Homo sapiens: one gene and its partners. The protein of the gene in region 1 interacts with the protein of each later gene in a pairwise test. Each region holds a gene or a part of one and is shown in the gene's direction. Other genes may lie near its edges.

Evidence for each region.
Region 2: the proteins of CERT1 (region 1) and FTSJ1 interact in binary tests that used the Homo sapiens proteins (3 or more experiments, as listed by UniProt).
Region 3: the proteins of CERT1 (region 1) and PM20D2 interact in binary tests that used the Homo sapiens proteins (3 or more experiments, as listed by UniProt).
Region 4: the proteins of CERT1 (region 1) and ACTL8 interact in binary tests that used the Homo sapiens proteins (3 or more experiments, as listed by UniProt).

What each region holds. Positions count from the first base shown.
Region 1 is NC_000005.10:75,409,744-75,418,513, reverse strand, and holds part of CERT1 (ceramide transfer protein), read left to right. Parts: intron 1-1,480; coding exon 1,481-1,638; intron 1,639-7,410; coding exon 7,411-7,503; intron 7,504-8,770. UniProt on the Homo sapiens protein: Shelters ceramides and diacylglycerol lipids inside its START domain and mediates the intracellular trafficking of ceramides and diacylglycerol lipids in a non-vesicular manner.
Region 2 is NC_000023.11:48,479,199-48,487,968, forward strand, and holds the end of FTSJ1 (tRNA (cytidine(32)/guanosine(34)-2'-O)-methyltransferase), read left to right. Parts: intron 1-1,952; coding exon 1,953-2,005; intron 2,006-2,090; coding exon 2,091-2,144; intron 2,145-2,227; coding exon 2,228-2,330; intron 2,331-2,433; coding exon 2,434-2,517; intron 2,518-3,204; coding exon 3,205-3,308; intron 3,309-3,398; coding exon 3,399-3,596; coding exon of another isoform or gene 3,597-3,653; exon of another isoform or gene 3,654-3,756; intron 3,757-3,787; coding exon 3,788-3,820; 3' UTR 3,821-3,829; intron 3,830-4,042; exon of another isoform or gene 4,043-4,143; intron 4,144-6,537; 3' UTR 6,538-7,152; downstream 7,153-8,770. UniProt on the Homo sapiens protein: Methylates the 2'-O-ribose of nucleotides at positions 32 and 34 of the tRNA anticodon loop of substrate tRNAs. Requisite for faithful cytoplasmic translation.
Region 3 is NC_000006.12:89,163,055-89,166,256, forward strand, and holds the end of PM20D2 (xaa-Arg dipeptidase), read left to right. Parts: 3' UTR 1-2,511; downstream 2,512-3,202. UniProt on the Homo sapiens protein: Catalyzes the peptide bond hydrolysis in dipeptides having basic amino acids lysine, ornithine or arginine at C-terminus. Postulated to function in a metabolite repair mechanism by eliminating alternate dipeptide by-products formed during carnosine synthesis.
Region 4 is NC_000001.11:17,749,893-17,759,198, forward strand, and holds the start of ACTL8 (actin-like protein 8), read left to right. Parts: upstream 1-5,440; 5' UTR 5,441-5,612; intron 5,613-9,306.

The sequences.
Region 1 (8,770 bases):
ATTTATTGTATTTATTTTGGGTAAATACCTAGGAGTAGAATGTTCTAATCATATGGCGGGTGTGGGTGTGTTTAATTTTTAAAGAAACTGCCAAACTGTTTTTTACCAGCCACATATGAGAGTCCCAGTTCCTCCATATCCCCACCAACACTTAATATGGTCAGTCTTCAAATTTCAGTCATTCTAATAGGTGTGTAGGGATATGTCATTGTGGTTTTAATTTGCATTTCCATATTAACTAGTGATATTAAGCACCTTTTCATGTTTTTATTTGCCATTTATATCTGCTCTTTGGTGAAGTGTGTGTTCACATTTTTTACTCATGTTGGGCTTGGTGATTATTATTATTATTATTTTGAGACAGAGTTTCCCTCTTGTTACCCAGGCTGGAGTGCAGTGTGGTGATCTCAGCTCACCGCAACCTCCACCTCCCGGTTTCAAGTGATTGTCCTGCTTCAGCCTCCTGAGTAGCTGGGATTACAGGCATGCGCCACCACACCCAGCTAATTTTGTATTTTTAGTGGAGACGGGGTTTCTCCATGTTTGTCAGGCTGGTCTCGAACTCCCAGCTTCAGGTGATCCGCCCGCCTTGGCCTCCCAAAGTGCTGGGATTACAGGCGTGAGCCACCGCGCCCAGCCAGTGTTTATTATTAATGAGCTTTGAGGTTACTTCATATATTCTGGATAGAAGTCTTTATTAAATATATGCCACACAAGATTTTCTCCCAGTTTGTGGCTTATCTCTTTATCCTCTTAACAGTGTTTTCAAGAGCAGAAATTTTACATTTTGATTTAAGTTTCACAATTTGTTCTTTGATGGATTATACCTTTACTGTCATATCTCTAATCGTTTTTAAAGTCAAAATTGACATTATTTCATTTATAATTATTCTACTAGAATGATTTCTTAACTATAGAATATTATGATTTCTTGTTTGCATCTTTGAGTTTTAAGATTTTTTGTTTAATTCAAAAGCTAACCATGAATTAAAATGATAAAATTGAAACGTAAAAGGCATTGAGTTTAAGTGCATTGGTCCTGGATTTAAATTTGTATGTTTATTTTTAAATTGTATATTATTTTATTAGATTCTTTAGTTTATCTTCAGATTTTTTTTAATTCTAGGCTTTTCAAAATAATAAGGTAGTTCTTGCCATAATTAGGTCCTACTCTAAGCTGTCAGAATGTTATTGTTAAAGTATTGCTCCTCCTACCATTTGATTAATTGGGTGCAGCACAGCAAATAAATTTCAGGAAACAGAATCTAGAAAAAAAGGACTTGAAAGTACATATGCTGCCACGAAGCTTCTTTGCTTATAGAGCTTGGATAGGAGATTTTTAAATGTTGGCCTACAGGAGGAAAATTAAAATCCCAAAACCTGCTCTGACTTGCTAATTTTCTAAACATTTTCTAATCTTAAATTGTGATGAATTATTTCCTCATTAGAGATATTTTCAGTGAATAATTTTCATTTTCAGTATTTCCACATGTGACACCAAAAGGAATTAATGGTATAGACTTTAAAGGGGAAGCGATAACTTTTAAAGCAACTACTGCTGGAATCCTTGCAACACTTTCTCATTGTATTGAACTAATGGTTAAACGTGAGGACAGCTGGCAGAAGAGACTGGATAAGGTAAGACTAGGTTTTTTTCCTTTTAAAAATAATCACATTTAAGTTTTACGTATTGTTTGAATATTTAAAACAAGCTAACTTCTTAGGGAAGAATCTTGGGTTGATAGAAATAGCAGATGATACTACTACTCTGAAGCTTTATGGGCATCCTAAACTCATTTGCCTAACAAGATTCACCAATTACTTGTTTAGTTACTATACAGTATGCTTTCTTGAAAGATTTAATATAAAAGTTTTTGTGATGATGTTAGTAATGCTTTGGAATAGAAGTGTTGAGCCATTTAACATTACACACCTTTAGGTGCATGATGTATGAAACTGCATTTAAGGCATATGAACTAACTTATATGCCAATTTACAAAGTTAAACATTTACTTATTATAGTAATACTCATGTATTTTTTCCATGGTCAGTGATACCATTTAACATACATTATGTTGTTTGAGCATTTGCCCTATGTTCACATTTTCCCACCTTTGTTTAAACTGCAGCACTGATAATATTATAGTATGACTCTTTAGTTTCTAGTGTGAAGCATGGCTCAGTGGATTTGTTAAGTAGGAAAACTTCTATTTATAATTCAGCTTTAGAATAATAGTAAAATGTTAGAGTTGAAACATACCTTAAAGTTCTAGTCCAATGCCATCATTTTATAGAAGAAGGAATTGAGGCCCAGAGGCTTGTCAAAAGGTGAAAAGTAATAGAGTTAGAGGCATTTTTCTCTATTCTTTTATATATCAGCTCTGGATGCCAGATTAGACATCAGCCAGAATCATATTCATTCTGAGTTATATTGCTTGCAGAGTTTGAAGGCCTTTGAATTTGAGCGGGACACTAAGGAAAGCAATGATAGCACTATGTGTTTAGGAAGGTTCCCATGTTTTAGAAGAAAAGAGAGCTGTTCAGAATGCACAAGTGCAGGTGAGAGTAAGCCATTTTGATTAGGAATATGTCTTCTTTTAAAATAGGTAATGAAAACATCCTTTTAAGGTATAGAAAATTTATTATCATTCTGGAGCCAAACTATTATTATCTTCAAAGATTTCAACTCTATACTCAGTGTGGATCAAATTGAATTATTAGAAGAGTCCCTGTTCACAAAAAAAAAACAATGTATTGAAAAACAGGACAACTCCCTAAATACATTAGACTAATGGTTCAAGATTATCATTCAGCTAGTCCAGACTAGCTTATTTCCAACTTTTTGGCAACTTTCTCTCTCTTTAGTCTCTTTTTCCTTCACTAAGGGATCATATTCTTTGGTCATATACTCTAACCACATTGCCTAAAATAATTTTTTTTAAACCTTTGCACATTATATACCACTTCCTGATTATTTTAGCATTCAAGTTTATTTGCCATGTTGAAAAGGGGAGATAGATTTTTGATTGCTTTCAGCATTGTTAATCTTACCAGTTCTCTTTCTTTATTGGGTAGCAATGAGCAGAGCAAACCAAAGATCTGCGGGAAAAAAACCACTTTTGTTGCTTCTCCATGCAACACTCTCCACCAAAGAACAGCCAGAAAAGATGGCAGGCAGTATTGGTTAAAATCTGGACACTACTGTGTTTTATAGTCTTCTTACAGATCTATCTGATGTCAAATTTTATTAACCTTTTCCACTGTAATTTTTTCTCAAGGTTGAAATAACTGGATCCCAGTTACATTTTACATGGAATGTAAGTGTGTGTGTATTTGCACATGTGTGTACACACAGTATGTGTGTGTTCATATATATATACATAATATATGCAGGGTATGTGTGTATTTATTGGTAAGCAACTCTATTCAAGAACTTTCTAATCTTTTGTATGTAGAGTGTGTGTGTGTGTGTGTGTGTATATATACACACTAAAGACTAGAAAGTTCTTAAATAGAGAAAGTTGTTTATCAACAAATACGTCTTTCAGGTAATTCTTAGAATTGAGAAAGAAAGTACAATGATAACAATATGGTTTCACTGAAATTGTTTCATTCAGGTGTGTGCCTGCTGTGTGCTTGACTCTAAGCTAGGAATGGGAAAACAGTGATGAGCAGGAAATAGTCTCTCAAGGGGCTTAAAATCTAATGAGAGCAATTAAATAGGTGATAATAACAGCTATTTAATAATAGAATTGTCTATATTATACTTTTATGTAGATTTATAATGTCAGTTCCAGGATTCTTTCAGCTAATTGAAAATACTATTTTGTAGTGATGATTTTTATTGGTTACCTATAATAATAATGATCCTTTCCACTGTAGAAGAAGTGTACTTAATTGTTAGCCAGTCATGTCCAGGAAAACCAAAAATTCTAAAATTAGGCAATTATGGTTAACAGTGTTAATAAGAGATAACCTGTTCATTGAAGATACATTTTCTTACATTATTAGATTCACAGGTGTGTACTTTTACATACATTTTCACTTTCCTGTAAGTCTTTAATATTATTGCTGTGCTGTGCATTTTTGTTTTATTCATTTAAAATTAATACATAACATACATACAATGAAGTGTACCAATCTTAAGTATACTACCTGATTTTTTTTAACGTTTGTATACACCCCTTAACCATAGACAGATCAAGATATATAACTTTTCTAGCACCCTAGAAGGTTCCTTCATGCTCCTTCCTATTCCATATCATACCACCACCCCAAGAGGTGATCATATGGTTTTAACCTATGTCATTATAGATTAGTTTTGCCTGTTCTGGAACAACATACAAATGGAATCATACAGTATACTTTTGAGTCAGGCCTTCTCTTTCCTTCAACATTTGACTGTGAGATTCATTCATGTTGTTATATTTAATAGTAGTTTATTCTTTTTTATTGCTATACACTATTTTATTGTATAACTTTTTATTGTATGACTTCAATTTGCTTATCTATTTTCCTGTTGGTGGACATTTAGATTTTTTTCATTTTTTGGCTATCATGAATGAAACTGCTATGAGAGTTCTTGGGGCATATCTTTAGGTATATTTCTCATACCTTGGAGTAGACTTCTTGATTCATAGGGGTATATGCTTAACTTTAGTGGATACTGATGATTTTCCAAAGTGATTATTTCTACCAGCAATGGGTGAGGATTCCAATTATTTTTAATTCTTGACAGCATTTTGGTATTGTTAGGGATGTGTGGGTGTGTGGGTGTTGTTGATGTTGTTCACTCTTGACTGTACTTGGTATTGTGTGTGTGTGCGTCTGTGTGTGTGTGTGTGTATAGGTGTTGGTGTTGTTTGATTTTGGGGACAGTCTTTCTTTTTTTGAGAGACAGGGTCTCACTGTGTTGTCCAGGCTGAAGTGCAATGACTATTCACAGACACAGCCATTAGTATACTACAGCCTTGAACTCCAGGGCTCGGGTGATCCTCCTGCCTCAGCCTCCTGAATGACCAGGACTACAGGCACATGCCACTGCACCTGGCTTAGTCATTCTGGTGGATCTGTAGTCCCATTTTCTCTTTAGTACACAAAAATCAATTAATGAAATCTTTGGGTCTAATGAACCCATTGATTCATTGATTTCCACTGTCTTTAACGCTGATGTGGTATTTAGAAGTAGTTTGCTTTGTGTGAGTTCAGTTTAGACTTTAGCCATTAAGTTCAGTGATACACTGCATAACGACATTTCCGTCAGTGATGGACCACATATACAACTGTGGTCCCATAACATGATAATGGAGCTGAATAATTCCTTTTGCCTAGTGACATCTTGATGATCCTGACCCTGTGTAGGCCTAGGCTAATGTGTGTGTTGTCTCTTAGTTTATAACAAAAAAGTTTAAAAAGTTAAAAAAAATAAATTTTTTAAAAAATAGAAAAATGTTTGTAGAATACAGTATAAAGAAAATATTTTTGTGCTGCTGTACAATGTTTATGTTTTAAGATATCTTATTACAAAAGACTCAAAAAGTTTAAAAAATTAAAAAGTTTATAAAGTAAAAGTTACAGTAAGCTAAGGTTGTTATTGAAGGAAGAACATTTTTAAATAAATGTAGTGTAGCCTAAGTATGCAGTGTTAAAAGTTTACAGTGGTGTGCAGTAATGTCCTACGCCTTCACATTCATTGACTACTCACTCACTCACTCACCCTGAGGAACTTCAAATCCTGCAAGCTCCATTCATAAGTGCCCTGTGCAAGTATACTGTTTTTTATCTTTTATATCATATTTTTCCTGTCCCTTTTCTATGTTTAGATTCACAAATACTTAACCATCATGTTAAAATTGCCTTCAGTATTCAGTGCAGTCATATGTTGTAAATGTTTATAGCCTAGATGTGTAGTAGGCTATACCATCTAGGTTTATATAAGTACACTCTATGATGTTTATACAAGAATTAAGTCGTCAGTGACACATTTCTCAGACTGTATCCCCATGGTGAACTAACATGTGACAGTAAATACATGTGGCTTTCACTAGCCTTCTTTAGATCACAAGCATAATCTGTTCTCTTATGATTTTTGATGATCACGCTCTTCAGAGTAGTGTTTTTTTGGGAATAAGGGGAAATAGGAAGAGCTGTTTACATTTCCTGTAGCCAGAGTGACCATGAATCCTGGTTTGACCAAGGCAGTTCTTAATTCAGCAAGATTATTACTAACATTCCCTTTCGCTTTCAAAAGTGTGGTGCTTACATTACCCAATAGGGGGACCAAGCAAATCAGTCTTTTAGAAAATGGAATTTGGACAAGGTAAAAAAAAGAAAGAAAAGAAAAAAGCCATGTATGACTATTTGAAATGAGGAAATAAAAGCATTAGATTATTTACAAACATACTGGACTCCAGTATCAGTTTTGACCCAGTGAACCCCATTGTTGTGGAAATAAGTTTTATATGGGACCAACCTTTGTTATTTTAAGTGTTGACCCTGGGTCTTTTAACCTTTTAGAGCTATAGGCCCTATCATTAAAAGGAGAGTGTTAAAATACATAACTAAAGTCTTTTTCAACGCTAAAATACAGTCTTAAGCAGCAGTGAGAAAGTATAAGAAGGTTTTCTTTCTTAGAATATCTTTTTAGCATTCATTGATCCCACCTACTGAGTTCTTTTCTGGTATTACTTGCTGTTTTTCTTCATACCAAAATAAATGTATCTCTTAACTGGGGTTGGTGGGAAGGGGAAGTATAAGAATGTATAGTAGGTATTTTTCAGGTGCTAATTTACCTGGGTTTTTTTCTTTTCTTTTCTTTTTAAGTATACATGCAGTTACTTAACCATTTAAACACATAACCTACTTTTAAGGTGATTTTAGTGGTGATTTAAATCGTAGGTTGTGGCCGGGTGCAGTGGCTCACACCTGTAATCCCAGCACTTTGGGAGGCTGAGGAGGGTGGATCACGAGGTGAGGAGTTCGAGAAAAGCCTGACAAACATAGTGAAACCCCATCTCTACTAAAAATACCAAAATTAGCTGGGTGTGATGGCACAAGCCTGTAATCCCAGCTACTTGGGAGGCTGAGGCAGGAGAATTGCTTGAACCCAGGAGGCGGAGGTTGCAGTGAGCCGAGACCATGCCATTGCACTCCAGCCTGGGTGACAGAGCAAGACTCCGTCTCAAAAAATACATACATACATACATACATAAATAGTAGGTTGTAAGTAATTTATAGCCTAGAGAAAAGTGTTTTCTTGGGCAGAATAATACTCTTATTTTTCACAGGAGTGGAATTTTTTTGTGTCAAATTGTAAAATTTCAGTGAAATGTAGAGGAATTCCACCTAAAAGACTTCATTGTAATTAAAATGCCTGCCTCAAATTACAGATTTTTCACTTCTTTTTAATAGGAAACTGAGAAGAAAAGAAGAACAGAGGAAGCATATAAAAATGCAATGACAGAACTTAAGAAAAAATCCCACTTTGGAGGACCAGATTATGAAGTATGAATTTATATTTTGATCTTAGAGAAACACATAGATCATGTCTATCACAAAAGTGATTTTTTAATAATACTCTTGTAACCTTTAAATATTCTAAATATATAATTTTTTCCTCAGTGTTTATGTTAATTCAGTGTATATTTCATGATATATAAATGCCAGGCATGCTCAAATATATATTTCTTATTGCCTACAAAGTTTAGGCTTCAAAAGGCTTAGTATTAGGCCTGTTCACTTGATAGGACAAATTTTTATCTCCCCTGTAAAGATGATCATTTTTAATGTTATCTACTTTTTTTTTTTTTTTAACATAAAAGCAAACTATAAAGGAAAAATCTGAGTACTTTGCAGACAAAAAGATTTTAGTCTGTACTATACTGTGAGATCTTTTTTTTTTTTTTGAGACCGAGTCTCGCTGTGTCACCCAGGCTGGAGTGCAGTGGCGCGATCTCGGCTCACTGCAAGCTCCGCCTCCCGGGTTCACGCCATTCTCCTGCCTCAGCTGCCCTAGTAGCTGGGACTACAGGCACCCGCCACCACGCCTGGCTAATTTTTTTGTATTTTTAGTAGAGACGGGGTTTCACCATGTTAGCCAGGATGGTCTCGATCTCCTGACCTCGTGATCCGCCCGCCTCAGCCTCCCAAAGTGCTGGCATTACAGGCGTGAGCCACCCCGCCCGGCCTACTGTGAGATCTTATCCATAGCTGAACATAAAACTGTTCTAATTGTCTTTGTTTGAAAATGTCTGAAACCAGCTTTTTTCTCCTTGTGTTTATTTGTTAAGCAGGTAATAAAATCTCCTTCACATGTATATACACACATACATTAAAATCTTATAAGCTTTCTATATTAAGAGAAAAAAATGTGTAAGAAATATATTTGGTAATTGCCATTAAACAATGTTGAGGCTAGCGCACTGGCTCACATCTGTAATCCCAGCACTTTGAGAGGCCAAGGCAGGAGGATTGCTTGAGGCCAGGAGTTCAAGACCAACCTGGACAGCATAGCAAGACTTCATCTCTATAAAATAAAATAACAAAAATTATCTGGGTATAGTGGCACATGCCTGTAGTCCCAGCTACTGAGGAGCCCAAGACTGCAGTGAGCTACGATTGCACCACTCCACTCCAGGCTGGGTGACAGAGCGAGACTTTGTCTCTTTAAAAAAAAAAAAAAAACGTGTTGGCCAGCACGGTGGTTCACACCTGTAATCTCAGCACTTTGGGAGGCTGAGGCGGGGGGATCACAAGGTCAAGAGCTCGAGAC
Region 2 (8,770 bases), on another chromosome or scaffold:
TCACCTCTTCAGTTACTCCCTGCCTCTCCCTTCCGCACTCAGCTTTCTCCCACATCTGGCAACTTCTCCCTACCTCTGCTGCCTGTTCTCTCTCTGCCTCTCTCTTCCTCCCACTTGCACCCCACCCTTTGAGTTTCATGTCTGTTGTCTACCTTTCCCTGCTCTCATCTCTCTGCAACTGTCCAATTCCGTTGCACTGTTCATTCATTTTCAGCCAGCCAGCCATTCAACACACATTTACTGAGCACCTATTGTGTTGGGAAAACATTCATGAATAAAATTCCATTAATCTTTAACCTCATGGAGCTGATGTTCTAGTGGGAGCAAATGGGAAAGAAAATAAATGATTCAGCTCTGTACCATTAAAAGGGGATGGGGCCAGGCATGGTGGCTTCCACCTGTAATCCCAGTGCTTTGGGAGGATGAGGTGAGAGGAACACTTGAGGCAGGAGTTTGAGACCAGCCTTGCAACATAGCAAGACCCTGTCTTAAAATATTAGCTGGCATGGTGATGCATGCCCATAGTCCCAGTTACTCAGGAGGCTGAGGTGGGAGGATCACTTGAGCCCAAGAGGTCGAGGTTACAGTACACTTTGATCGCACCACTGCACTCCAGCCTGGGCAACAGAGTGAGACCCTCTCTCTAAAAAAACGGGGTGAGGAGGCCGGGCACAGTGGCTCACGCCTGTAATCCCAGCACTTTGGGAGGCTGAGGTGGTCAGATCACCTGAGGTCAGGAGTTCGAGACCAGCCTGACCAATATGATGAAACCCCATCTCTACTAAAAATACAAAAATTAGCCAGGTGTGGTGGCATGTGCCTGTAATCCCAGCTACTTGGGAGGCTAAGACAGAAGAATCGCTTGAACCCGGGAGGCGGAGGTTGCAGTGAGCTGAGATCGCACCATTGCACTCCAGCCTGAGCAACAAGAGCGAAACTCCGTCTCAAAAAAAAAAGGTGGGGTGGGGGATGGGTACCATAGGGAAATCATTGAGCAGGAGGAAAGCAGGAGTACCTGTTGGAATTTTAAATCAAGTGGATGGGGAAGGCCTCACTGACTTAACAGCAGAGACTAAAGGAGGTGGGGGAGTAAGCTATGGATATGTCTGGAGGAAGAGCAATCCAGGAAAAATTGCAGCCCGTGCAAAGGTCCTGAGGCAGGAGGGTGCTTGCTATGTATGAGTAATGACAAGCAGATCACTGTGGTTGGAACAGAGTGAGGGGGGGAGAGTGGTAAAAGGTAACATCAGAGAGGTAACAGGGGACAGATCCTATAGGGCCTCGTGGGCCATGGTGAGGCTGTTGGCATTTTCACCGAGATGAGAGCTTGGAGAAAACCATGAGAGGGTTGTGAGGAGAAGAGGACTGTGCTGGGCTTGGGCTACTATGAGCTGTGTGAGGGCCAAGGGCAGAAGCAGGGGCTCCGGGGTGGAGTAGTCCAGGCAAGTGATAATGGGTGAGGGCAGTGGTGGAGAGGAGAAGATCAAGTCAGATCTTTTGAAAGTAGATGTGTTAATGGCTTCGATGTGGGTGTGAGGAGAGGATGCGGGGGGAGCATCAGAGGTGACTAAGGTTTTGGATTTGAACAATTAGAAAGCTCAGATGAGATGGGGAGGATGGTGGGAGGAGCAGGTTTGGGGAGGTAGGTCAGGAGTTTGGTTGTGGATGTATTGGAGATGTAGAATCTGATTTGTGAATCTGGAGTTCAGAGGAACAGTCTGGGCTGGAGGTGGAAATGATAATGATGCTTGTGTGTGAGGTTGTTTTAGAATTGAAATGAGTTCCTAAGGGTTAGGAGCTCAGAATATGCATCCAGTTGGCAGACAGTAATTTGCATCTGGAACCTTAGCAGTAAGACAGCCTGGAAAATGTATTTAGTGTCTGATCTGTGTGGTACAAGAAGATGCACAGAGCCAGATGGGACCCCCCTAACGCTGTTCCTCTTGCCACAGTAACCGGTCTCCATGATGTTGATGAGTATATGCAGGCCCAGCTCCTCCTAGCTGTGAGTAACCCTGGCCACCCCTGACCCACTTTGGCCCCCTCCTGGCTGTCTCCACCTCAGCCTCAGCCGTCTGTCCTGCCCACAGGCTCTGAACATTGCTACACATGTCCTGAAGCCAGGGGGCTGCTTTGTGGCCAAGGTAAGTCTCAAGGAACTTGGTGGAGTAGAGGGAGGTCGCTGAGGGCCACCCTCACCCGCTGTCTTTGCCTTCTCACCCTGCAGATATTCCGAGGCCGGGATGTGACGCTCCTCTACAGCCAGCTGCAGGTCTTCTTCTCCAGCGTGCTGTGTGCCAAGCCCAGGAGCAGCCGGAACTCTAGCATCGGTCAGTGGGGTGGAGGGGCCAGGCAGGCAGAGGGGGATCTCTGGGACGCCGACTGCACGAGGAGGAAGCGGCAGTCATGCCTCACTCCACCTTCCCCTGGCAGAGGCCTTCGCTGTCTGTCAGGGCTATGACCCTCCCGAGGGCTTCATCCCGGACCTGAGCAAACCCCTGCTGGACCATTCTTACGGTGAGAGCTGGAGCATGGGCCACCCTGGGGGACTCTGCCACACCTTATGCAATCTAGGTCCCATGAGGGCCCACAGTCTCACCCCCTGGGGGAGGCTCTGTCCCCTCATGGGAATTTTTTTCCCAAGGGGATCCTTAGCCCCATTCTCTGATGGAAATCCCACCCCTTTATGGGTATTTTGTCCCGGGAGGAGCTTCAGCCCAGGCAGTCCTCTAGTGGTAACTCTTGGGCCTGGTGAAAATTCCATCCCAGGAGGATCCTGAGCCCTGCCCCAGTGGAGACTCCACCTGCCTAAGGACATTCTCTCCTAGGAAGATCTCAGTCATGTCCCAGGTGGAAACCTCCTCGGTGTGAAACTTTTGCCCCTTAAGCCTCTAGCAGGAAGAGACAGAGCCTGCCCCTGGGATGACATTTGAGTGAGGGAGACGTCATCCAGGCAGCATATAATCCAATATCAGGTGGACATAAATGCAGTGAAAAATAGCAGGGCACCGATGTTTTAGAAGGGGTGATTATGGAGGGCCTCCCCGAGGAGGTGATCTGAACCAAATGAAGGATTTCTGGTGGGGTGGGAAGAGAGTAGCTGGTGGATATGTGGGGAGGGTTTGGCAGCCATACCGCCGCCTGTGTCATGACTGGCCCCAGGCATCCTGACCTTGTCCTCAGTTGTCTCCCCCTGTTCCTAAGACCCAGATTTCAACCAGCTGGATGGTCCCACCCGCATCATTGTGCCTTTTGTGACCTGTGGGGACCTGAGCTCCTATGATTCGGACCGCAGTTACCCACTGGACGTGAGTGCCCAACCAACAGTAGGTGGGTGGGAGGGAGGCTGTCCTAGGTTACCAGGTCCTCACCATCTCCCTACCCCTCTGTCCCTGCAGCTAGAGGGCGGCTCAGAGTACAAGTACACTCCACCCACACAGCCCCCCATCTCGCCACCATACCAGGAGGCCTGCACGTTGAAGAGGAAGGGGCAGCTGGCCAAGGAGATCCGCCCCCAGGACTGCCCCATCAGCAGAGTGGACACGTTTCCCCAGCCCCTGGCCGCCCCTCAGTGCCACACCCTGCTGGCCCCTGAGGTCTGGAAATGTGACTCTCAGCCTGCCTTGACCCCTTCCCCGTGTGCCTTTTTCTGACCCAAATCTCATGGTTTCTGGGGCCAAAATTCCCTTTCCTGCCTCCCAATAGCTATAAAAAATTGGTAAAGCCAAGCATAATGAATGGAAAAGTTTCGCCAAATATGTGAGTCACTTTTCTTTTTCTTGGGTAGATGGAAGACAATGAAATGAGTTGTTCACCTTAACCCATTACGGTAAGTTTGCCTTGTTATCTAAGAGTTTGAGTAAGGGCAACCTTTATGAAAAACCTCAGTAAAATTTCACCTTTGAAATTTTTATGTCAACTGATAAGATTTTAATCAACAAACCCTTTTCTAAACATCTGTTGTTGTATGCCAGGAACTGCTTTAAGCATTTTACATTTGAGGCATTCAGTAAACATTTATTGAGCACATACTGTATGTCAGGTGTTGTTCTAGGTTTGGAGATAGAGCAGGGAGCAAAACAGAAATATCTTGGCTCTCACAGTACTTCCAGTTTGGAAAAGAGGCAACAATCAAAACAGTCTGTAAGTGCAAGAGTTTACATACACATATATACTATATAGCTTGCATTTCTCAATTTACATATCTTGCAATATATATAATATATAAGAGTAATATGGGATATAAAAAATAGAAAAAAGTAAAGCAGGGTGAAGAGAATCAGGAATTCTAGGCATGGCAGTTTTCATCTTTTGGTGTTTTTGTTTTGAGACAAGGTCTCACTCTGTCGCCCAGGCTGGAGTTCAGTGGTGTGATTTCCCGGGCTCAAAAAATCCTCCCACCTCAGCCTCTCAAGTAGCTGGGACTACAGGCATGTACCACCATGCCTAGCAAATTTTTGTATTTTTAGGGGAGATGGAGTTTTGCCATGTTGCCCAGGCTGGTCTCGATCTACTGGGCTCGAGCGATCTGCCATCCTCGGCCTCCCAAAGTACCAGGATTACAGGCATGAGCCACTGCGCCCAGCCAGTTTGCACTTTTTAAAAGGGTTGTCATAGAAGGCCTCAGACATTCCTCAGAGGTAATGTTTGAGCAAAGACCTGAAGGCACTGCCGGAGGGAAGCCATGTGTTTATCTGAGGGAAGAGCATTCTGGGTAAAGGAAATAGGCATGTCCCAAAGGTGGAACTGCACGTGGTATGGGAGGAAAGTTTATCCATAGCCAAATGTTCTAAAACCACGATGTTAGAGGATGGCCCTTTCTGACAATGGCATAGCAGGTTATTCAGACTAAGTCAGCCATCACAAAAAGCCACCTTTTTTTTTTTCTTGAGACAGAGTCTTACTCTGTTACCCAGGCTGGAGTGCAGTGGCATGATCTCAGCTCACGGCAACCTCCATCTACCAAGTTCAAGCGATTCTCCTGCCTCAGCCTCCCAAATAGCTGGGATTACAGTGCCCGCCACTATGCATGGCTAATTTTTGTATTTTTAGTAGAGATGGGGTTTTGCCATGTTGACCAGACTGGTCTCAAACTCGTGACCTCAGGTGATCCACCTGCCTCGGCCTCCCAAAGTGTTGGGATTACAGGTGTGAGCCACCACACCTGGCCTTTTTTGTTTTGTTTTTTGTTTTGTTTTGAGAACAGAGTCTCGCTCTGTCGCCCAGGCTGGGTGGAGTGCAGTGGCACTATCTCAGCTCACTCCAACCTCCGCCTCCCGGGTTCAAGAGATTCTCCTGCCTCAGCCTCCTGAGTAGCTGGGATTACAGACGTGTGCTCCCACCTCACCCGGCTAATTTTTGTATTTTTAGTAGAGACGGGGTTTCACCATGTTGGCCAGGCTGGTCTCAAACTCCTGACCTCACAAAATCTGCCTGCCTCAGGCCTCCCAAAGTGCTGGGATTACAGGCCTGAGCCACCACACCTGGCCACAAGAAGCCACCTTAAGAAAAAATTGAAACAGCAAATCATTGTGTGAAAGAGATTTACAGTTTTTAATATTTAAAGGGTCCTGTAAATCAATAAGGAAAAACATGAGAGTGGCCAGTAAGCACATGAAAAGCTGCTCATCAGGAAAATACAAGTGAAAACTCAAAATATCAACAACACTAAGTATTTGAAAGGATATGCAGCAATTGAAAGCCTCGTACATGCTACTGGGAAGGTAAAATGGTGCAGCCACTGTGGAAACTTAGGCATTACCTACTAAAGCTGCATGTGTGCCAGTTCCACTCCTAAGAAATGAGTCCTAGAGGCCGGGTGCCGTGGCTCAACGCCTGTAATCCCAGCACTTTGGGAGGCCGAGGTGGGTGGATCACCTGAGGTCAGGAGTTCAAGACCAGCCTGACCAACATGGCAAAACCCCATCTCTACTAAAAATACAAAAATTAACCGGGCATGGTGGCGGGCACCTGTAATCCCAGCTACTCAGGAGGCTGAGGCAGGAGAATCACTTGAACCTGGGAGGTGGAGGTTGCAGTGAGCTGAGATCGTGCCACTGCACTCCAGCCTGGGTGACAGAGTCAGACTCCATCTCAAAAAAAAGGAAATGAGTCCTAGAGTGTTGCTAGCAGCACTATCTATAGTATATGCCCATTAAATCGTGGTACATTCACCGTGGAGAACTGTACAACAATGACAGTGAACATCCTGCAATTACACCAAATAACACCTTGTAGTTATTCATTAAACTGAACATATATAGGTTTTATGCATTTTCTATATGTCATGGTTCACCATAAAAGGAGGAAATGTCACAAAAATGTTAGCAGCAGAGTTAGCTAGGTGTGGTGGCACATTCCTGCCTGTAATCCCAGCTACTTGGGAGGCTGAGGTGGGAGGATCACTTGAGCTTGGGAGGTTAAGGTTGTCGTGAGCTATGATGGAGCTCCACTGCACTCCAGCCTGGGTGACAGAGCAAGACCCTGTCTCTAAAAAAACAAAACAAAACAAAAAAACTTTCTTTGACTTTTGGTTAGCTGGCAAACTGATACAACTCAGAAACTGCTCAATGTCAGGAAAACCGGAACTTGTTGATGAACTTGTTTTCAAAATATCATCTCATCAACGAGGCCTGGACAAACAAGCCCTGAGGAGGGATCTGCAACAACCCTGAAGACAACAAGGAAAGAAACCATGAAAGTCTGTCTGTACTGCAGTGGGAATTCTTGAGTGAGGTCTTACCTCTTCTTTAAACCTCTTCAGGAGTGTCCTGATTATGTCCAGAATTTTCCCTAAAGGCAGGGATTCTTAACCTGGATAGAAGCCAGGGGTAACCATGAACTTGATGGAAGAAAATGTTACATCTTTATTTTCAGCAATGAAACTGAAATTTAGCCTTACTCCCAAGTTATAAATGCTGGCAACAAATCACAGTAGTAAAAGCAGTACCTGGGATTTTCCCACCAATACAAACCAGTTACAGCAACTGTAATGTAACATAAAAAGGGCATCTTGAAGTATTGTTCATATTTGTCACCTCTTGGAATGATAGCAGATCCTGTAAGTTGATGTATTAATTAAAAAGCCCATATATTACTGCATCTCAATTTTGTTTCAATTTAATATATAGTAATAATTGTAATTCAATGTAATTGGCTTCCATTGTAATTGTGTGTGTGTGTATGTGTATGTATATACTTTTAAAAATATTCTGTGAAGGGGTTCACAGATTTAACCAGATGCCAAAGGGTTCTGCAGAACAAATTTATTTATTTATTTTGAGACAGAATTTCGCTCTGTCACCCAGGCTGGAGTGCAGTGGTGTGATCTTGGCTCACTGCAACCTCTGCCTCCTGGGTTCAAGCGATTCTCCTGCCTCAGCCTCCCGAGTAACTGGGATTACAGGCACCCGCCACCACACCCGGCTAATTTTCGTATTTTTAGTAGAGACGGGGTTTCACCATTTTGTCCAGGCTGGTCTCGAACTCCTGACCTCAGGTGATCCACCCACCTCGGCCTCCCAAAGTGCTGGGATTACATGCGTGAACCACCGCACCCAGACTTCAGAACAAATTTTTTAGGTTAAAAACCTGTCTTAAAGAAACGTCAGGGCCAGGCGTGGTGGCTCACGCCTGTAATCCCAGCACTTTGGGAGGCTGAGGCAAGCGGATCACTTGAGGTCAGGAGTTTGAGACCAGTCTGGCCAACATAGTGAAACCCGTCTCTACCAAAAATACAAAAATTAGCTGGGTGCGGTGGCACATGCCTGTAATCCCAGCTACTCAGGAGACTGAGGCAGGAGAATCACCTGAACCCGGGAGATGAAGGTTACAGTGAGCCGAGGTCGCGCCACTGCACTCCAGCCTGGACGACAGAGTGAGACTCTGTCTCAAAAAAAAAAAGCAATGTCAGAAAGTCTACCTGGACTGCAGTCCTAAATTTCTATAACTTAATGAACAGGAGCTGACAGAAACTCCCCAGCTACACGAACAGAACTGTTTTCTACAGCTTAATCCTGTGTCCTTAGAAATTCACGTACTCTGTGATCCAAGGACTATCCACGCCACAGTCCAGTGACCTCAGGAGTATCCACATACCAGTCTGCGACCCCAGCTGTTTCCACACCTGACTGTGACTCACCCCAGTTACCATGTGTGACCCCAGGAGTATGCACACTCAAGTCTGGGAAAACCATTGTCCAATCTCCAGTCAGAAATGGTGTTTAAATTCTGGAGCGTGTGTTCATAGGCATGTCTACACTCCGGTCTCTGACCACGAAAATAACCACACCCCAGTCTGTGTGACTCCAGGAATGTCCAGACCCCAGTTTGTGTCAGTCTAGGAGTGTCCACACCATGGTGACTTAACCCAGGAGTCTTCTCACCGAAGTCAGTGTGACCACAGGAATGCCCACACCCCAATCTGTGAATATGCACAGCCCAAGAATGTATGGCGGAAGTGTCCACACAAAAGGCCGTGTGACCACAGGCGTAGCCACACCCATTACAGTGCAAATTCAGCAGCGTTCACACGACAGCCTGTGAGACCTCAGGAGTGTCCTCACGCCAGGTTCTGTGAGTCCAGCAGTGGCAATGGCTTGGAGTTTCCATAGCCATCTTAGTGGTGCCATAAATGTGTAGCTCAAACGGTGACCACAGAGGAGTCCACAGCTCAGTCTGTGGTGTCCTGGGAGTGGTTTTGCCCCAGTCCAGCCACCTCAGGAGTGTCCCCACCCAAGTTTTTATGACACAAGTAATGTCCAGTTCCCAG
Region 3 (3,202 bases), on another chromosome or scaffold:
CCGCACCCGGCCTGCCAGTGTCTTTTTAATACACATGTGTGTTGGTATTTTTAAATTGTTACAGTATCTAGCATATTGCTTACTCTGAATATTCAGTACTTTTTGAATAAGCAAATATTGCTTCCTTGCTTGGAATCATCAGAGTTTAAAGTAGCTTCGTGGATGGACCATGATCCTAAGATGAGTTTTAATTTTGTGTTTACAGTCATCTCTTGTACAACGTGGAGAAGAAAAGATATACTTACTACTTTGCTTCAGGTACACATAAGAAAACCTCTTTTTTAAAAAAATTTTTATTTTTTTACATAATAGAGACAGGGGCTCGCTGTAGCTTCCAGGCTGGCCTCAAACTCCTGGGCTCAAGCAATCCTCCTGTCTTGGCCTCCCAAAGTGTTGGGATTTCAGGTATGAGACACCACACCTGCCCATTTTTGTTTGGTTTTTTAATGGGCAGGTTCTTGCTCTCCCAGGCTGGAGTGCAGTGGTGTAATCACAGCTCACTGCAGTCTCGAACTCCTGGACTCAAGCAGTCCTCCCACCTCAGCCTCCTAAAGCACTGGGATTACAGGCTTGAGGCACTGCACCTGGCCCTGACCATTTTTTAAAAAGGTTAGGCTTAGTGCAAAGTTTAAAATTATATGATTCTTAAAATACTGAATTAGTTTCTAAACTAAACTAGAGGTATAGGTGGACCTGCTTGAGGTATCTTTGTTTTTATGGAACATTTTTATTACATGCCTTTATAATTTTTCATTGTTCACACCCTGTACTGAAACCTTTTTCTCAAATACCAACTCTTGGCTATGTTAAATTTGTAGACTTTAAAAGATGTTATCTAAATTAATGGTTTAAATATACAAATTGAAAATATTTTCTTTTTAGTGGCAATTTTAAAAGCAGGCCTTAATATGGGACCTGCTTTTAAAGTAAAATATGTGGTACTATGAATTACTAAATTGCTATATACCATGTAATAGTGAGTATAGCTAATATTTAGTATGCCTTTTAAAAATTTTGGACTGCTTTTCGGTTTTAACAAATTCTCCACATGTGAACTACTCAAGAAATTTTCCCTTTTTAATTGCCTCTATAGCACTCATAAGAGCTAGGGCATTAGGATAAACTAGAATATTTTATGTTTATGAATACTTGTATAAACTTAAAAGTGTTTTGATTTCCCACAATTTCCCAAAGGAATGTTTATTTATTAAGAGTTGTGTTGATAATTTAACTGTTACAATTTCAGCAGTTGAATTCAGTGAACACTGGTTGAGGAGTGCCTATTTCTAAGCACTGGGTGTAAGAAGAAAAGACACTTGCAAAGGAAGAGCTAAGATTAACATAATTTCTTTGGTTTTTCTATTGCTTGTTATTATTATGTAAAAACTGGGTGGCAGTTCACAAGGAAGATTGTTGTAACAGAAGAGTGACAACCAATAGTTTTTTGATCATTAAATCAAATTTTGTAAACAGTGGCAGGAGCGTGGACTTAAAACAAGGCTTGCTTATTTGGTTTTGTCAAAGTTTTACGAAAATATATGATATATATTTATACTAAAACTATATAATCCTTAGATTTAGGAAAGCAATCAGTTAATGTCTTTAGCACACTAAAGCAGTATTAAACACAGGTACAAGTTGGAAATTGTAGAAAACTGAAAGAAAACAAGACAAAATGTCTATGGTAGGGAATAAAAGAGTTTAAGATATTATGTAAAATTATGTGTATTTTCTTCTCTTTTACATAAATTGTTTGTGAAAAGTGTGCTCAACTTTTTTACAAGAGTGATATTAACTTGGATTTATTTTTCAATATAATTTGGAGACCCTTTGTTATCCAAATAAAATTGATGAGTTTCTGTGCCTGTAAAAAAAAAAAAAAAAAAAAGAAAAGAAAAGACACTGTTGCATGCCCCAGAAAGCTTGTGGTGGGTGGTAAGTTCTCACGAGATTTATTTATCTGAGCAACATTGGGACTGAGGGAACATCTGAAAGCTACCATCTTGAAAATTTTTGAGGAAGTGTTTCTGAAATATTTAAAAATACTTAAGTCAGTCATTTTGAACAAAAGAAATTGATACAATAAGTTTTTTTTTTTAAGGATGATTGTCTAATTTTGTAATATGTTGTTTTTTAAAAACCTGTCTGATGGTGTTTTATACATTTCTAACTTTTTACCTGAGTTATCTCTTTAGTCTTTTGGAAAATACCCTACACAATACTAACCTTTAAAACTATCAAATTTTTGTTATAAGATAAATGTTATCTTTGTACTAGATAGCAACCCTTTATAAGGTTGTAAGGTATAATAAACTGCTTATTTTTTTACATACTTCATATCAAGCATTTTGCAGTCCAATTATATAGTTGAGGATGGTGTATTTTGATATGTATGAAGTTAATATTTTCAAGTAAGCAATCAGTCTACTACCATCAGATTATAAGCTTTTTTGTAATAATAGGTACATAAAATGTGTATGAAAAATCTACAATAAACATGTTTATCTGATAGCAATTGTCTTGCTTTTTTAATGACCTGAAGATATATGTACGAAGATGAAGCACAATCATCCAAATCCATTGTGATATACTATACTTTTTCTTACGCATCAGTATCATAGATGTTGACTTGCTTTTCCACTATGTGTCAAATATTTTAAAAGAACAATTAAGTTCTTTTGTTTAAAAATGAATGTTTCACTAGTCTCAGAAGCTAAAAAATTGCAGTGCAAATTGTACATGGCAGGAGGTAAATACATATAGTATTGAGTTTCCTTTTTTAAAAAAAGTTTACACATTTAATACAGAGTAATTCCATATAATAACATAAATGCAATGGAACAGGTTTTTGGATCCTGGCTAAAGTATAAGTGCCTCATATGAGAAAAGTCACAAATGTCCATGTTTCTTTGTTTAAACTGGTTTTTAATTTTTATTCTTATTTTTGGAGACAGGTTCTCACTGTCACCCCGGCTGGAGTACAGTCAGTGTTGTGATCATGGCTCACTGAAGCCTCATCTTCTAGGCTCAAGCAATCCTGCCTCAGCCTCCTGAGTACCTGGGACTATAGGCATGTGCCCGGCTAATTTTTAAACTCTTTATAGAGATGGGGTCTCAAACTCCTGAGCTCAAGCGATCCTCCTGCCTTGGCCTCCCAAAAGACTAGGATTAGGGCATAAGCCACTGTGCCCAGCCTTAGACT
Region 4 (9,306 bases), on another chromosome or scaffold:
GGGAAACCCAAAGCCATTCAGCTAAGCCACTCTCAGATTGCTGATCCCCAGAAGCTGCATGAGATAATAAATGTTTGTTGTTTTAAGCTGCTAAGTTTTGGAGTAATTGACTACACAGTAATGGATAAATAACATGTGGGGATAACTATCTTGTAGGTTTGTTGTGAGGATTAAATTCACGTAAGCACTTTGTATAGTACACGATGTATGTTGAAGGCTGTGTGAAATGTAAGAAAACAATGGCAGCATAGAAAATATCGTCGATGAACCCCAGGGTCATGTAGCCAGGGTGTGACAGGGCTGATGATGCTGCAGTTCCTAGCTGCCCGGTTTTAACCATTTGTGCCCCCTAATCCTTATTGATTGTGGTGGGCACCACAGGCTTTGCCAGAAATGGAACAACAGTGTCAGAGGGTGGGGAGCAGAAGAGGAAGTGATGGTGCCAGTCAGTGGGCCCCTGGGGTGGGGAGCAGCCCCAGGGTACTGGGGGTGGAAGACTGAGGCACAGGACTGGAGTGAGTGTGTGTGTGTGTGCGTGTGTGTGTGTGTGTGTGTATAGGTCACCTCTGGAGACCCTTCCAGCCCAAGACTGGCTGATGATCTGATTTGCTGCTTGTTTCTGGCCCTGGTCTGTGTGGAAGACTCAGAAAAACCATGGCAACCACGGGATAATTAATGATCAGGGATGGAGGAGGCCAGGAACCTGGTGTCCCCGAGGCCACGTGGAGAGCAGCTTGGGAGGAAGGTCCACTGGGCTTTCTCTCCGTGACCATGTGGGCTTCCTTGGAAGAGAGATATCAGAGAGGGTCCAGGTGGGAGATAAGCCCCTGGGCCTGTAGCCCTAACAGTCCAGGAAGCACAGGCCTCTCTGGGCCCAGTAGATGGTTCCTTTGGGGTCGTTGGCTCCCAGGCCCTGGACTGCTGAAATTAATGCATTGTTTTCAGGAGGCCGTCCATGGCTTCCACCAGGTTCTCAGATGGGTCTGGGACCCAAACCATGGAGACTGTCTAGATATTACCCATTGTAAAGACATGGAAATGGAGGCACAGAGAGGTTAAGAGACCTGTCCAGGCCATACAGCAGGCTGTGGCAAAGTCAGGCCTGGAATCCAGGCCTCCTTGCTGAACACTCTCCCAGGGTAGGACCCACAGTGGGTGGACCAGAATGTGCTGTGCATGTGGGCCCCCCTGGCTGGCAGAACTCCCGTCAGGACAGCTGGGTCACTCCTGCCCCCTCCCTGGGCCAGATGGGCAGCCCTCTCCTCTGCTATTTTCTCCACCTTTGCCTTTTCACAGGGAGTGACTGGGGTGGAAAATTCTAGGGGAGCACAAAGTCTGCCAAGTTTAAACCTGGCACCAACCCAGGCACCTGGCTGCCAGGCACTTGGAAATAGAACTGGTAAAGGGGTCCCTGGGGGACTGGGCTGCTGGGAGCAGCTTGGCAACTGCCTCTCCTGGCTCCTTCCAGACCTTCTATCCCAGGAATATTCCCTCCTCGCTAGAACCTGCTGCCATGTGCCAGGAACATCTGGAAGAGAGTTTTCTGGCAGGTCTGGGGGTACAGAAATGGGTTACAGGGGGCTTGGTCATGTATTATATCACAAACATCTACCGTGATAAGCGAACCAGTGTGCGTCTGCAGCGCCTGCTGCAAGGGACTGAGCGAGGCCCCCGCACATCCTTCATTTCCCTTTGAATCACTCCTGTGATATGGGGTTCCCCATTTTACAGATGAAGAAACTGAGGCTTGGGAACTCCAGAGGACTGCCCAAGTTCACCTAGCTTTTCAGTGGCAGTGCTGAGACTTGAATCCAATCTGTGTGACTCCAAAGCCTGCCTTTTTCCATGGTCTCTCCCTGTGCCCTCTACACCCACCATGTCCAGGTACCAGTCTAGATGCTAGGGATATAGAGATAAACGAGCCATGAGCCTTGCCCTTAAAGCACCTGTAGTTTAGTGAGTGTATTAGCTATTGCTGCTATGCTAATGCCCCATAACAAGCAGCCCCCAGCTCCCACATCTCAGTTGCTTGCAACCACAAGCAGTTATCCTTCTTGTTCCCAGCTGGCTGGGTCGGCTGGGGTGGTTCTGCTTCAGGCTGCAGGTTGGCCAGGTTGGCTTCACCTGTCTCTCATTCTCCTTGCACCAGTGAAAAAGAAAAATACTCAGGTCCTGTTTTCATGACTGGGAAGGAACACACAATGTCTCCTAAGGGTTCATCTTAGAACTGGGGTACTGTCATGCTGCCCACATATGGAGACAGGTTACACGGGCAAGGCCTACATCATCAGTGTGGTGGGGAAATACACTTTGCCTCCTCTGATGTGAGGCACTGCAAAATCACATAGCAAAAGCAAGGATGCCTAATTCTCTAACAGGGAGGCAGGAAGAATAGGTCACAATAATCCAATCACCCACAGTGTGGACGAGAGACTTATGATAATAATATTGTACTGCATTCTATCAAACCTAAGCTGCAAGACACACCATTAATTTATGTACCACTAAGAAAGAAAAGTGGCTGTGAACGAAAGTATGGCATGATGCTTTCTTAGCCCATCATATTTTTATTTTATTCTTACTGAAAGAGCTATTTGATGCTGAGGCATGGAAGTGTCAACAATGGGAACAGTTGGAACCAGGTTTGCTCTTGCAGAGACAATGACGACTGTCACAACTGTCACTGTCCAAGGAGATTATGAGATGCCATCGATTGTAAAACACATTTTGACTTCAAGGATGTGAAAATGTGAAAATGTGTGTCTTAGAACGGATGAAATTTGTCATTTACTGAGAGTAAGTGGTTGTTCTAGGGTGGACATTGTGGCTAAAATTTCTATGTGGACAGGCTCATTTGTACCTCAAGACAACCCAAGAGGAAAATATTATTATCCCCATTTCAAAGATGAGTAGGGCAAGATTCAGAGTGATCATGAGGTGGGAGGCAGGACTTGACTCCTGATGTGGGGCTTGGACACCGGACCAAATGGCGGACTAGCTAAAATAGAGGGGGCAAAGCAGCTTTCTATAAGACACATCCACCAGTAGGCCATGTCAGTTTACCATTGCCATGGCAACATGCAGGAGTTACCACCCCTTTCCATGGCAATGACCTGACAACCCAAAAGTTACCACCCTTTCCCTAGCAATTGCTGTATAAACCACTGCTTAATCTCCATGTAATTAAACATGGGTATAAATACGACTGTGAGGCTGCCCTGAGCTGCTGTTCTGCCTATGGGGTAGCCCTGCTCTGCAGGAGCAGTCAAAGACTGGAGCTTTATCACTGGCCCTTCAATAAAGCTCTGCTTTCTTCTACACTTTCTTCTCGCCCTTGAATTTTTGCCTGGAGGAAGCCAAGAACCCTCATGGGCTAAGCTCTGTTTTGGGGCCTGCCTGCCCTGCATCAGTCAGTTGTCCTGCCCAAGACTCATGGTTAGTAAGTGGAAGAGCTGAGATTTGCACCTAGGATGGTCTGACTTCCAAGACAAAGTGATAAAGAGTGTGGGCCCTAGGACAAACTATACTTCAGTTTCTTCATCTGTAAAATGGGGATGATAGGAGTAACTACCGCATAGATTATTGTCCTATGAGAGTTTGAAAAGAGTGTCAGGCACAGAGCACTCAAGACATGCTGGGTTCTCTGGTAGAAGCAGAGATTTTTGCCTCTCTGAAGCTAACATTAGTGTAATAAAAGCTGCAACCGGACTAAGAGGAGAGGACTATGGGAGCCCAGAAAAGCAGGCCAATAGCTTAGTAATTTGGGGGAACCATCAGAAATTTGCTGTGAGGGAGCAAAAAGAATGTGTGATTCATGTGTGCACTTATTTATTCAACAATATTTGTTTACCCACTGTATTAGTCTGTTCTCATGCTGCTAATAAAGACATACTCAAATCTGGGTAATTTATAAAGGAAAGAGGTTTAATGGATTCACAGTTCCACTTGGCTGGGGAGGCCTCACAATCAAGGTGGAAGGCAAAGGAGGGGCAAAGTCACGTCTTACGTGGCGGCAGGCAAAAAGCTTGTGCAGGGGAACTCCCGTTTATAAAACCATCAGATCTCGTAAGACTTATTCACTATCATGAGAACAGTATGGGGCAAACAGCCCCCATGATTCAATGATCTCCACCTGGCCCCACCCTTGACACGTGGGGATTATTAAAATACAAGGTGAGATTTGGGTGAGGACACAAAGCCAAACCATATCACCCACTGTGTACAGGTAGTACACAGTGACTGGATTTGAAACCAAGTTTGGGGGCTAATTTTTAAAAATTGAGGTATAATTTATCTACAATGCAACACACAGATCTTAGTGTTCAGTATGATGAATTTTTACAAATGTATACAGCACCCCAATTGCAATAGAGAGTATTTCCATTGCCCTAGAAAATTCCATTGTGCCCTCTTCCAGCTAAATACACCCATCTCCACCTGTTTTTTTTTTTTTAATTTCTGTCACTGTAGGTTGCTTTGCCTGTTCTTGAACTTCTGTGAACAAATGTGAACCTGAAAGGGCCAGACCTTCAAGATGGATCCTGAGTGGCTAAGTGGGCTAGGCTCCGCTGTTCTTGCTTGTAATCCCATCACTTTGGTAGGCCAGGGTGGGCGGATCACTTGAGCCCCTGAGTTTACGACCAGACTGGGCAACATACCAAGACCCTGTTCTCTACAAAATAAATAAATACTACCCCCCCCCCAAATAAGAATGGGTAAGTGGGCCTAAATTTAAAATAGAATGAAGCAGCCACTTGCTGACTATGGTTACACAACTACCCTGACTTCCCCAGAAAACCTGCACCTTTTTATCTTTGGTACTTTCTCAGCTCACCTGAACCAACCAATCAGGGCTCAAGTGTATAAACCAATCAGGGTTTGGCTGTATCAACCAATGAGAGCTCAGCTATATTGACCAATCAGAACTAAGCAAGTTTCAATCCTTCATTTGCACATCTTGATCTGATTGGGAACCTGGGCAGGAACTTTTGCGCAAAACTTGATGCTTCCCTCATTCTTGGGAACTCCCCTTCATTTTCCAGTGGAGGGTGCATCTCCAAGTTTGCAAACTGTTTTCTGTACTAAAGTCTCTTTCCTCTAAATTTCTTTTCAGAGAATTTTGTGCATAATGTAAATGGAAACTTACAGATTGTGCTGCTTTGCGTCTGGTTTCTTTTACTCAGCATAATACGTATATGATTAATGCATTTGTTTTATGTATCAGTAGTTATTTTCTTTTTCACTGCTGATATTTCATTGTTGCTGGTTGTCAAATTATTGCCTCTCCGCTCCACATTCACCCTTCTTGCCTGCTTGGTAAAAATGGATCTGGGCCCTTTAAATTTTCTCCCTGGCCAGCAGGCATGCTGGGCTTTGCCAGTAGAGGGCGCTGGGGAGCCCCAGCAGCGGGGAGGTTCCGCTTCCTGCTTGCCACGTGCTCACAGAGTAGGCTGCGGCACCACGTGCAGCCGCTCTCGTGCAGGCGTTTGCAGTGTGCAGCTGAGTTCGGCAGCTCACACAGCACCCCTTTCAAGTTGTTTTGCAGTGGGTGCCTCTTGTGAGACACTGTTTCTGAGAGCAGCTTTTGTGGCATCTTACAGGGCAGATTTCTGGTACGTTCTAAAAGTTGAATTTCTAACTTTGGCTGGTTGTGGCCCCTGACTGTTTTTTTTTTTTTTTTTGTCCTTCCTGTGGCACAGCCATGCCCTCTTAAGCAAGGCCTGGCTGTCAGCCCCCAAGGGTTTGTGTGTGGGGCACTTCTTTGTGGGGTTGGGGAGTGACAGGCTCTACCTCAGACCAAGGGCTTTTCCTTAGGGACTTGATTTCAGCTTTTGGAGGAGACTCTTCCATAGCGGCTGTACCTCAGCCACATGTGTGGGACTGGGGGCCCTTCCTTGGGGGCCCAAGCTTAGCCCCTTGTGGGGGCACCGCCTGGAGGGGGTTATCTCAGCCTGGTGGAGGGTCCCTTCCCTGGGGTGAGGGGCTCTTTCTGGAGGTCTCTATCTCAGCCTGATATGGGGGTCTCTTTTTGGGGCTCTATTTCAGTCCTGGGGTGGGGGGCTGTTCCTTGGGGGCTCCACGTCAGCCCTGGGAGGGCTCTTTTTTTGAGGACGTTTACTCTGTCACAGGTGGCAGGAGGGTGTCTCTTCGGGACTCTACCGCAGCCCTCAGGGGCTTTTTCTTTGTGGACTTTATTTCAGCCTTCGGAGGGGACTCTTCCTTGGGGGATCAATCACAGCCCTGGGTAGGGGGCCCCTTCCTTGGTAGCTCTGGGAGCTCTTCTTTGGGGCTCTATCTTATCCCTTGAATAGGGGCTCTTCCCAGGGGGCCTCAGCCCTGGGGGCCTCTTCTTGGGAACTTTTTTTTAAACCTCTAGTGGGGGACTTATCTTTGGGGAACCTATGAAAGCCCCCAGGGGCTCTTTCTTGGGGACTCTACCTTGGCCTTGAGGGGTTCTTCCTTGAGAGCTTTGTCCAGCTCTGGTTTGGGGGATTCTTAGCGGGGGGTTGTTTATCACAGCTCTGGATGGGGTCTGGTCTTCAGAGACTCCATCTCAGCTCTGTGGGTTGTGGTTGCTCCTTGCGTCTGCTGTTTCTGTATTAATTATCGTTCTCTTTACTCCTTATCAGTCAATTTCTTGTTAATTCAGTTCTCTATTATAAGTTAATAATTCTTCATATGAAACTTTCCCTGTAAAAATCACTGTATGGTGTCCTTTCCTTGACTGGACCCAAACTGATACAGAATTGGTGTCAGGAATAGGTATCAGGAGATGGAACCACAGAGGTACCATTTTGGGAGTGGTTTTCTGGTGATTTTGGGCTTGGGTGTAGTGTCAAGTTCCTTGCCAATGGGAAATGGGGTGCTAGTTACCCAAGGCATGTGGTGACATTATATGAGTCTATCATTTGCGGTTAAGACAAAATGCCACCTGAGGCACGTCTGTTGGGAGCCAGAGTGATGCTGCACTTGACTGTGTGGCCATAATGAGGACTGTGAGAACTGTGGGGTGGGATGGATCCTTTTGAGGGCTCCTGTCTTCAAGGAACCAGATACTATGCTCTATTTAAAACATACATAGGCAGGCCGGGCACAGGCATGGTGGCTCAGGCCTTTAATCCCAACACTTTGGGAGGCTGAGGCAGGCGGATTGCTTGAGCCCAGGGGTTTGAGGCTGCAGTAAGCTATGATTGCACCGCTGCACTGTAGCCAGGTGACAGAGCAAGACCCTAGCTCTAAAAAATAATAATATAATAAGAATTTGAAAAATGTGTAGATAATGACATAGAAAATGACAAGCCCAGGTCCATTAACTCTTCCTTCGAGCCACAGTCTGAGAATCAGACAGCTTCCATGGCAGCCCTTAAGGAAGTTCTTATTTCTTGCAGCCACAAGGCTGAGACTGCTGAAAATAAAACAAAAAATTTAATTGTGCTGGTTGCTGAATTATGACAACAGTTGGAATCACATCTGGACAAATTAGGGCATGAATCGTGAAAGAATGGGGTCCTGAAACATGGAATGGGGGCAGTTGTTGGACTCTGATGAAACTGACAATCTAAACTGCAAGTCACTCTGAGCCCACCCCCCCCACCCCCACCCCAACTTATCAAGTGGAAATACCTTTCCCTCCGCAGTGCTGGAGGAGACTGCTTTTTCTCTGTTAAGAAACCCTGTGATAATCTCGGCTGGAGCAGATGCTGTTCTCAAGACTCATCACAGCCACCTGCTGTTGTCACTAGCCCCTAGCTGTGGTCAGATCTCAGCATGTTCCACGGTGGCGGGTATACACAGACCTAGGAGGAAACAGAAAAAGAACGACAAGACTGGTGACATGTATGGGAGTGGATTCTAAGGGTTTTAGATCCAGGAAGGCAGAATGTAACACTAGCCTGGGCTGGATGCATTGATACGGGCACACTCATTAGAGGTTCTGAATTTGGCTGTTAGCTTCTGCAGCTGGAGGTGGCTCTAACAGCTTGGTTGGTTGACTGAAACTTGGACTTGACAGTAACCTGCAGTTAATGAGGGTTGTGATGTCATGATGTGGAAGAGGGAATCCAAAGGCTTGGGGAGACCGCAATGTTGGACTGCATGTATCATGTCTAATCTGCACTCCCCTGCTGCCACCACCTATGTTCCACAAGAAGGACCCAAAGACAGAGACATAGAGAGATCCATTAGTGAGGGAGCCCCTTTGTCCTTGAAATGCACAGTGGCTGCTCTCTTTTGTAGGCCACTGTGAATATAGAGGCTGCCTCCATTGAGATGGGCTCCCTGATTTCAGTGGGGATAAGGGGGTCCTGGAGTAGCAGATACCGAGGGGCAGCACTTCACTGTCAAGGACAAGGTGGGCACACATTGGAGAGGGTAGCAGGAATGTATGGGAAGGCAGAATGCCTTTGCCCACAGGGATTTCTAGTGGTGGTGAATTGATTAGAGTGTCTCTGGGAATGAAATAAGTGGGCAGCCTACTAGAGTATTATTTCATGTATTTTTATATGTGATAGAAAGTTCTAGGCCCGGTAGCCAAAACCTGGCAATTGATAGTCATGGCTTCTCATTCAGTTTCCAGACCCTAAGTCAATTCACAGACCCAGAATCCCTGGGTGGCCGGGTCCCCTTGAGGAAGGAGCCTGCATCATTGCCATAAATACTTATTGTAAATCTTCCTCCAAACCTTCCTCCAAAGGGACCTGTGACCATTTACCAAAATAATAGGGAAATGGACATACCCAGACAGTTCTGGAGTTACTTGGCACTAACTCTGAACTGATGCTGTTTCCTGGGGATCTAAAATGCCACTCTGGCTCATAAGTCAAAGTGGGGCTTGTGATGGTCAGGGATAGAGTCTTAGCTGTAGTCTGACTCTCAGTAGATTTGCTTGGTCCATGCCCACCCCGAAGTTATTTTCTGAGCTCCTGAATAAACAATTAGAGTAAGCACACTTGGTAATTATCCATTTTCTTCTCTCTTCTTCCCATTTTTGTTTTATATGCAAGTTTTTGGAAGTCGACTTTATAGTCTTTAGGTGACAGAATGTTCCATGGAACTGTGATCGGTATTTAAGTCCTAATAAATATAGTCCATGACGACTCCTGGGCCTATTAGTCTCCTTGTTTTGGGGAGTGAGTGAGAACTTACAAGGATGATAGCTGCATCTTTTTAGATAGAAATACGCAGTTGTGTTGTTGTACAGGACTTCAGTGGTGTGCAGGAGGATTCATATGGAAGCTAAGTAGTCAAAGAGATGGGCTTTTCTGGTTATCAATTATTGCTTTTCTGTGTCCAATCACCCTTCTTGCC